Linked DNA regions of Homo sapiens. The protein of the gene in region 2 purifies or fractionates together with the protein of the main gene of each other region. This does not show direct contact. Each region holds a gene or a part of one and is shown on either strand. Other genes may lie near its edges.

Region 1 (3,500 bases), on a different chromosome or scaffold from region 2:
TGCCAGTAGTCCTGATACCTTAGGTGTCTGCGAAAGGGCGTCTGGCAGGGCTGGGGTTGGTGACAGGCACCTGTCTCTCCCACAGGCCTACTTAGAGTTTTTCACTTCCCGCGAGACAGCGGAAGCACTTCTGCAAGTGCTGAAGAAGTACGAGCTCCGGGTTAATTACCACCTTGTCAATGTGAAGGTAGGCCAGGCCCCAGGGTTCCCACAGAGTACCAGGCCCTTCGTTGAGCAAACACCCAGCACCTAGCCTGGGCTAGGCATTGTGCAAGACAGAGAGATACAGGCAGAACTGGGGCCCTGCTCTTAAGGAGCTCCCAGCCTAGAGTGAGGGAGGCAGATCAATGTGTGACCACCAGCCAGTGTAAGTGGGAAAATCAAGTTCAGGAGAGGATGCTGTCGGGTCCAGAGGAGGGATATCTCACCTGGGAGGCCAGGGAAGGCTTCTCAGAGGGTCATCTGTGGGAATCACTGAGGACAAAGAGGAGTTGGCCAACAGGAGAGAAGGGTATTCCTGGGACAGGGCAGAGGACAGGCAGAGGCAGTGAGCTGCACCATCTGGGGAAACGGGGAACATGAGCAGGAGGAGGCGGGAGTGTTAAGCAGGGGCCAGGCCCGCAGAGATCATGGTTGTCCTGCTGGAATTTGAGTTTTCCCTCAATGCAAGGGAAGCCTTTCTCCAGCAGTGGGGTGGCTTGGTTCCTGCTTTATTTTAGGCAAATCACAGTGGATAGTCATACGGATGAGAGAGATTGGGGACGGCTAGAGCCGGGGAGGCCAGTGAAGAGACCCCTGGAGTGACCCAAGCCAAACACACTCCTGGAGGTGGGCTAGACAAGAGGGAATGGATCAGAGAGTGAGCAGGGGGTGCTCAAGGAGGAGAGGGGAAGTGGCCAGGACGCCTCTAGGTTCAGGCTTGTGTGGGGAGAGATATCATTCACAGATGCAGGCAGAGGAGGCCAGGAGCGGAGGCACAGGGAGAGGGGAGTGGAGGCGCAGGGAGAGTGGAGGCCGGGAGTGGAGGCGCAGGCAGAGGGTATTGAGCCCAGACAGCCTCATTGAGTCAAGGCTGTCCAGGCAGTGGGACTCCAGTTGTTCTTGGCCCAGGTCTTACCCCCACCCCACATCCCCTCAGGGTGAAAACATCACCAATGCCCCTGAACTGCAGCCGAATGCTGTCACTTGGGGCATCTTCCCTGGGCGAGAGATCATCCAGCCCACCGTAGTGGATCCCGTCAGCTTCATGTTCTGGAAGGTAAAGGAGCCGGGGGCAAGCTTGCCCCGCCCACCTGGAAAACCGTGGGGAGGGATTGGGACCAAGTCCCAAGCGTGTGCTGAAGGCCACACTGGACCCAGCCTTCAGGGCACACCCAGCTCTGACTCACCCATGTCACTGCTGATGCAGGGTGTTTATTTCTGGGCAGGGGTGGGAAGTGATACTGGCAGTGGGCCTTGTTCTATTCCGGGAAATGTCCTGTTGAGCAGAGCCCTTGGAGAGCCCTGTTAATCTTGCCTCTGTGTGTGTGTGCATGTGTGCGTGTGTGCGGGGGTATGTGTGTGTAGGACGAGGCCTTTGCCCTGTGGATTGAGCGGTGGGGAAAGCTGTATGAGGAGGAGTCCCCGTCCCGCACCATCATCCAGTACATCCACGACAACTACTTCCTGGTCAACCTGGTGGACAATGACTTCCCACTGGACAACTGCCTCTGGCAGGTGGTGGAAGACACATTGGAGCTTCTCAACAGGCCCACCCAGAATGCGAGAGAAACGGAGGCTCCATGACCCTGCGTCCTGACGCCCTGCGTTGGAGCCACTCCTGTCCCGCCTTCCTCCTCCACAGTGCTGCTTCTCTTGGGAACTCCACTCTCCTTCGTGTCTCTCCCACCCCGGCCTCCACTCCCCCACCTGACAATGGCAGCTAGACTGGAGTGAGGCTTCCAGGCTCTTCCTGGACCTGAGTCGGCCCCACATGGGAACCTAGTACTCTCTGCTCTAGCCAGGAGTCTGTGCTCTTTTGGTGGGGAGCACTTGCGTCCTGCAGAGGACCACAGTGGGTGGCACCTCCTGAGAAGGCGAGGAGAGTGGTTGTTGCCAACTAAGCCCTCGAACCAAGGCAGCCTCCAGAGCCAGCCTGGGACTCCCAGTGAACTTACACTTGGAGCCCGTGCAGTACAGGCAAAACACGCAAGGGCATCAGGCACTGGTGGCATCGTAGAAGAGATGTGGCAAAGTGCTGTACCCTTCCACCTCCTAGAGGTGGGCAGCTGGGCCCCACCTACTTGTGACTGAAGGGGCACACCACTGCCCTGCCTGCCCACTTAGCCGTCCATGGCACCAGCCCCCTGGATGGGCATTGGGCTGACACCTACCATGCTGCTTTTTGGCACAGTTGTCTATTCTGAGCCTTGAGAGAAAAAGTGCCCCTTAAGGGTTGAAGGCAGTCTGAACCCTTGTGCTTGGTGGGGCTCGTGGCCTTCCCCTTTTGCCTGGCTGTGGAGGCCTGATGCTGCCCCGTTCCCTGTCAGAGGCTAAGATGAGATTTGCCAGCACAGGGGCCCCAGATCTGCCTGGGCCTGTGCAGCAGCCCAGCTTCCTGGTGTATTTTTCAGGTAGGCCCTTGTCCTGCCAGCTGCCTTCCTCATCCCCTCGTCCTGTCCCAGAGGTTATCTGCCTGGCCTGGCTCCCCACGAGTCACCTGCAAGCCCCAGGGCCTGGGGGCAGTGACTGGCAGGTGCAGATGGGCTGTTTCGTGTAGTGGAAGAGCAGCCTGATGGCCAAGGGGGTGGACGCAATTGTGGGATGTCCTCTTTACTCCCTTCCTGGCCTCACTGGCTGGGGCAGAGGGGCAGCCGCTAGGAGAGACTGAAAGCAGCAGCTAGGACTGAGGAGTGGGTTTTATTGTCCTTCAGAGCTCTTCAAGCTGTCCCCTCTGTCATCACTCCCTGGATGTGTGGGGCATGGTTCCTTCCCTGGGAAGGCTAAGTTCAGTTCTGTTTTTTATTCTATGAGAACAAGTCACAGCTGCAGCTGGGCCCCATGCTCTGCCCCAAGCCCCCAACCCCGCGGTGCTCTGGCGGCTTCCTGTCCACTCTCGGGGCCCTTGGGGCCTGGCTTGCTCCAGGGTCTTGGGCTACTGGCAGCTCCTCTCCTTGGGCTCCTGGCTGCCAGGCGTTGGTGCCACTTCTTAAAGGCCTGGAACCAGGGAGGAGAGGAAATGCTATTGTTGTGGGCTTTCTCCGGGGTCTGTGCTGTGCCTGCTAGAGCAACCCCTGTACCCAGCTCCTTTTGTCCCCAGGGCCCCTCCCTCTGCCCCAAGCAGCCAGCCAGTCTTGCCTAGGCCAAATGCACAAGCTCAGAATAGATCTGATGGTGAGCTGGGAAGCTGTACTCAGAGCAGAGCAAATGAGGGAGGGGGCGCTCAGGACCCAGGCCCTCCATGGGCTAGTGTGAGTGGCAGCCATGCCTCATGCCACACCTTCTTCGCAAACTGATGGACC
Region 2 (5,298 bases):
CTAAAGACATGGATTCTCCTGCTTTTCAAAAGAATGTTCTCATTTTAAAGTCCCAATTCAACCAAGCCAATACTTCAAAAAACACAGCCAAACTCACACATATGTGGGCGGCAACTACCCTACGGGCTGCCACTTGGTGACCTATGTCTACCTATTTCCTGCCTGGAATAGATAGGAAGTACTGTTATTCCCATTTTGCAGATGGGGAAACAGAAGTCCTGCAGGCTGAGGAACTTGACGGTAGCGGCAGAGCTGAGCCTTAGAATTTGGCAAAAGGCGGAAGAAACCCTACCTTAGGCATGGGGAACTCACATGCTCCCGCGCAGTAGTAGGCATCAAAAGATTTCGGTGAGATTATCCATTCATTCCAGCCGATGTCTGCGAAGTCCACCTTCAGGTACCTCCGGGAGCACACCCTCGGCTCATCCCACTGCTTCCTCCGGGCTTTCTGCATCGTCTTCTCGTCAAAGTCCAGCACCTGCGAGGCGGCCATGAACACCTCCTGGCCCTTCTTCCTGCGGTCTTTGCGCCCTGGCCGGGGTTTCAGCGCCCGGAAGGGGCTGGGCCACAGCTGGTGCTTGTGGAAGTGCTGTGCGTGGGCGCGCGGCGGCCTCTCATCCAGCCCCGGCAGCTCGTTGTCCTGGAGGGGCCCAGTGGCCTGCGCGGCTCGGCGCACGCGGGGGTCCGCTGAGTTGTTGGGGGCTGCGCGGGGCTCGGGGTCTCCGGCAGGGAAGGGGTCGTATCTCTGCAGCGTCACTGCCACGCTGTTGGGCTCCGAGATGGCCAGATCGTTGGCATAGACTAGGATGTAGGGCGCATAGGGGCTGGGCCGGGGCACCCCCGGGTCCCTCTCCTCAGAATCCAGCTGGGCGGAGAGGAGCAGCTCGCCATCCCGGCGGGCCGCCTTGACGATGGGGGAGATGTCCTTGGCCTGCCACAGGCCGCGCGGTGGGGGCGCCAGGGCCATGGCCCCGCGGAGTAGCCCCTGTGTGGCCGTGTTCTGCGAGAGGCTGCGGAAGAGCAGGTGCTGGCGTGTGGGCGGGCCCAGGGGCAGCGGGCGGCCTGAAGCGTTCTTGGCCCGCGGCTTGCATAGCACCTCGAGCGCTCGAGGCCACCGAGGCGGCTCTGAGTAGAAGTGGAAAGTGGCCGTAAGGATCATTTCCGAGTCTTGCATGGAAGTCAGGTTGAAGAAATACACGGCCTTCTGGTCGACCACTTCTGTGAGGGAAGGAGAGACCACAGGCTGTGAAGTTCTCGCTCGTGCTCCTGAGGGTCTCCCACCCAGGGCTGGAGGAGCAAACGCCCACCGATCCACACTTTCAGGACCATCCTCCTCCCCCGCTTTGCTTCCCTCCTTTCGTGTAATCCTCACATGAAACTGATGAGGGCGCCCTTTGCAATCCTCAGTGCACAGGTGAGGAATTAAGGTTGAGATTGTCAATATCCCGTAGCAAACAACAACAACAACAAAAAGCAACAGCAAAGAAATAGGGGCAGACAGGGAGGCATTCGGGCCTGCTGGACTCCAAAGCTCCTGTTTGCTCCCCCTGCCCTCTACTGCCTCTGCATGCACAAATGAACAAATGTCACTGACACCTTCATTAAGTGCTCAGGATGGCTTGGGTTGGGTCCAAGCCCTGCATCAAGGCAGCCCCTCCTGTATTTGCACAGCCCTCTATTTATGCAATCAGTTTTTAAATGCAATCATTAAATACACTTCACATTAAACCCAAACATTCTTCCAAAAGAGACGAAATAAATAAACGCTCATGCTTTTTGAGCACCTCCTAAGGGAAACCAGGATCAAAAGTACAGCCATTTAGGCATCTGCTCTTTGTTCTGCCTGAGGACTTTTAAGATTGTTTTAACAAGAAAAGAGCAGCATCAGGATTACACAAGGCAACCTGACTAAATCTCCAAGGTCCAGGTAAAGACCGGGACGTCTCAACCATTACATCTGCAACTTGGTTCAAGAATGCTCCAGCTCCGGCTTCCCTGGGGCTGCCGGCCACTCCTTCCTATTTGCCTGGTGGAAGCAGGCGTTCCCCAGGGCACCAGGGCAGCACAGCCATGTCAGCAGTCCCAGGAAGCTGCCCCAACCTTGGCAGCAGCATGAGTATTGTGTCAGGTTTGAATCGCCTAAACATTATTATATATCAGTGAGCGTTCTCAAATGGCCAAGTCCGCTCTAGGCTTCTGAGGAGTGGGGAGTCTTTCCTGGTGCCTCCCTAGGATGCCGCACACTAACAGGACACCAGAGAGGCCAGGCTGGCTTTCTCCTTTCCACTGCTTCATTTCCTGACAACGAAGTGTCCTTCTGCTGGGGAACGTCTGGAGAGGAGCAGGGCTCCCAAGCCCGGGAAGTGTGTGTGGGGGACACTGGGCTCTCTAGGGGCATGGGTCAGGGCCACACCTCTCTGACCCCTGTACCTACAGCATCTGCAGGGATTTTTTTTTTTAACAGAAATATTCCACTTTCTCTTCTTTGTTTCTGTTGGGAAGAAGGCATAATTCAACTGGGATTGTTCACATACTCTTAAGGGACTATGAGCGGGAAGAAACAGAGAAGCACATCTATGGAAGGCCTGATAAATAAATGCCAGTAAAGGCTCAGGTGGCACTGAAGCCATTACCTTATTTAATCCTCACAACAAACCTGCCAGGACAGTGTCACAGCCCCTCAACATGCTCCACACATAAGCAGCAGCCCAGGGTCTCAATGCACACTTGAACCTGGCTTCCCCAAGCATGTGGCCTTGACTGCATAACAATGACTTCCACATTTTAATCAGCACTCCAGGGGACTCTGGCCATCAGGGAAGTTTGGGAAGTCAGTGGCAGCTGATAGCTCACTCCGGTGGTAGCGGTGGTGTATCTGCAGCATCTGGGGTTGACCGATGGATGGGGTGAAAGTTCACCAATAATGTTGCACCCCCCCATCCCCAAGCTAGAAAATGCCCTAGGAACCAAGCTCCCAGGACTCAGTGGCGCCACGCCCTGAACCTTGCTTTCCCCATCTGCCTCACAGGGACAACAGCCTCCATCTCACACAGAGGATTGTCTGGAAGATCACAGAAACAGCCTAGTGAAGTGCCAGGTACAAAGGAGGTGCCCCCAAATGTGCTTTCTGCCTCTTGAATCTAAAGGACCAAGGCTGGCAGAGCAAGCTCCCCTCCATCAACTGGGGTACCTTGCATTCACTGATCCAAATATCTGAGCTGCAACCCAGCCAACACAGCACATTGTTTTTCTTTGATCCAGTTCAAGTCTCAACTCCTCCATTGTTCTGCTAACAGATTCAGAGTGGGGAGGAACCTTTGAGGTTGTGCAAAAGGGTATAAGTCCTACCTCCATGTGGCTTGAATGCCTCCTGCCAGAGGGAGCTCAGCCCTCACTGGGCAGCCTGCTCTGGGAAGACCCTCCCTGCTGGGGACTGCTGGGGACAAGATGGGTCACCCCCAGCCCCAGTGCATGAGGGACCACAGGCTGGTCCTCTCTCTGGATGTTTCTGCATGTACGCAGTGCAGGGGGCTCCAGGCTGTGGCTCAGAGAAGGGACCTCAACCTGAAATCTTTCAGTTTAGCCGAGCCCAAGCCATAAGAGAGAAGCATTGAAGAGAACGTCATTATTTCCTCTGATGCGTGCTGGTGCTCTGTGATTCATGTCTTTTCTCTCTTCTTTCTTCTCTGCCTTCCTCCCTCCTCTCTTTTCTTCCCCTCTTTCCCCTTTTCTATCCACCCTCTTTTCCTTTCTTTCTTCCTCTTCTTCTCTTTGTTTTCCTGATAAAGATTTGCAAAACTCCTACTCCAGGCTAAGTTGGGCTGACCAGGGTCATAACAAAGTTGCCCAGGAGGAGTTCAGCCTAGAGGGGAGACAGATAACAAAGTTGCCCAGGAGGAGTTCAGCCTAGAGGGGAGACAGACTGGTAATGGCAATGACACCCGTCTTCAGTGTCTCCTCATGTCACAGTTTTAAAGAGCACTGTCCAAGCGAGGCCCCCGGTGTGCTGGGTGCATTCCATCACAGGTCACCCCCCAAGCTCGGAGCCCTCCATTGCCCCAAATAAAACTCAACCCCTTACCAAGGCCTTACTTGATCTGGCCTGCCTACCTCTGCAACTTTATCTCCTATCCACAGCCCAACCCCACCCCTCTGCCCCCGTCACACTGGCGTTCTTCTCCTTCCAACATGTGGCTTTATTCTCAGGACTGTGCCTCACGCTTCCTTCCACCTTCATGGTTCCCCATCCAGTACCACTCAACCTCTTCAGGTATCTGCTCAAATGGAACCTCCCACAATGGGTCCCCTGGGCTCCCGTGGCTGGAGAACAGCCTCATCACTCTGTCTGCCCCTGCTTCATTGGCCTTCAGAGCACTTCCTGACATCCTGCTGTATACTGATTTACTGCTCTTATCTTCCTAAAACATAAACTCTAACGGGACAGGGACACTGCCAGTTTTATTCACTACTGCACCGCTAGACCTCACCATAAGGCTTAGGTGACAGTTGGAGCTCAGAGATGCATGTTGAATGAGATTGTCTGTGAAAATCCTGCCCAAGTGGGCACAAGAGAAGTGTGGTCTGTTACTTCAGTTAACACTGGGGGTTCCTGGCATGCTTCCCTAGAGTGCAGTAACCACAGCCTTAAGAAGTCAAGGAATCCTCATTCTTTACAAAGATGCAGCTGATGATGCAAATCCAAATGGAGACAGTGGGCACCCAGGTGTTTAGCCAGACTTCCCCTTGAGCCTCAGTGTTCTCATCTTTAAATTGGAAGAAAATTGTTTATTAATTATGACATTCTGAGCTCCAAGTGTATGTGCTTGGTCCTATGCTGAGTGTTCTGCATGCTTGATTCATCATTTTCACCATGAAGAGAGTAGGGAGCGGTCATTCATTCTGTGGACAAAGAGCTGAAGCTTCAGAGAGGGTGTGCAATTTGCCTAAAGTCACACAGTTGGCAAGGGGTGGAGTCGGGGCTTGTACCCAGCTCTGTCTGACCCCAAGCCCATGCCTTTTGCTCCTCCATGTGTTCTGGATATGTTCATGATCTGCCTAAGAGCTAATGGACAAAGATCATGTGCTGTGAACTGCAGCACGTTTTGCAAACAGAGGTCATTATTTTGATATTTTTGAGTTCTGACTCCCTAAGAAGAGAAAGACTGACTTTATTTAGACAAGCTGATCTCAGTGGCTCTTGGGAATTCTCAGAACTGTGACCAGGTCCACTTTGCTGGGCACTCAGCCTCCTTCCTGAGGGCAGTGGGGATGGTACTGGGGGAAGGGACTTCCTCATCC

What was found. The genes of interacting proteins can lie anywhere in the genome.
Region 1: the proteins of GDF10 (region 2) and MTHFR purify together in Homo sapiens (affinity purification with mass spectrometry; one large-scale study listed by BioGRID and IntAct). This does not show direct contact.

The regions. Positions count from the first base shown.
Region 1 is NC_000001.11:11,788,965-11,792,464, reverse strand, and holds part of MTHFR (methylenetetrahydrofolate reductase (NADPH)), read left to right. Parts: intron 1-85; coding exon 86-187; intron 188-1,138; coding exon 1,139-1,258; intron 1,259-1,566; coding exon 1,567-1,785; coding exon of another isoform or gene 1,786-1,925; 3' UTR 1,926-3,005; coding exon of another isoform or gene 3,006-3,195; 3' UTR 3,196-3,421; coding exon of another isoform or gene 3,422-3,500. Other genes in the region: uncharacterized protein C1orf167, read right to left, coding at 3,422-3,500. UniProt on the Homo sapiens protein: Catalyzes the conversion of 5,10-methylenetetrahydrofolate to 5-methyltetrahydrofolate, a cosubstrate for homocysteine remethylation to methionine. Represents a key regulatory connection between the folate and methionine cycles.
Region 2 is NC_000010.11:47,305,716-47,311,013, reverse strand, and holds part of GDF10 (growth/differentiation factor 10 preproprotein), read right to left. Parts: intron 1,219-5,298; coding exon 293-1,218; intron 1-292. UniProt on the Homo sapiens protein: Growth factor involved in osteogenesis and adipogenesis. Plays an inhibitory role in the process of osteoblast differentiation via SMAD2/3 pathway. Plays an inhibitory role in the process of adipogenesis.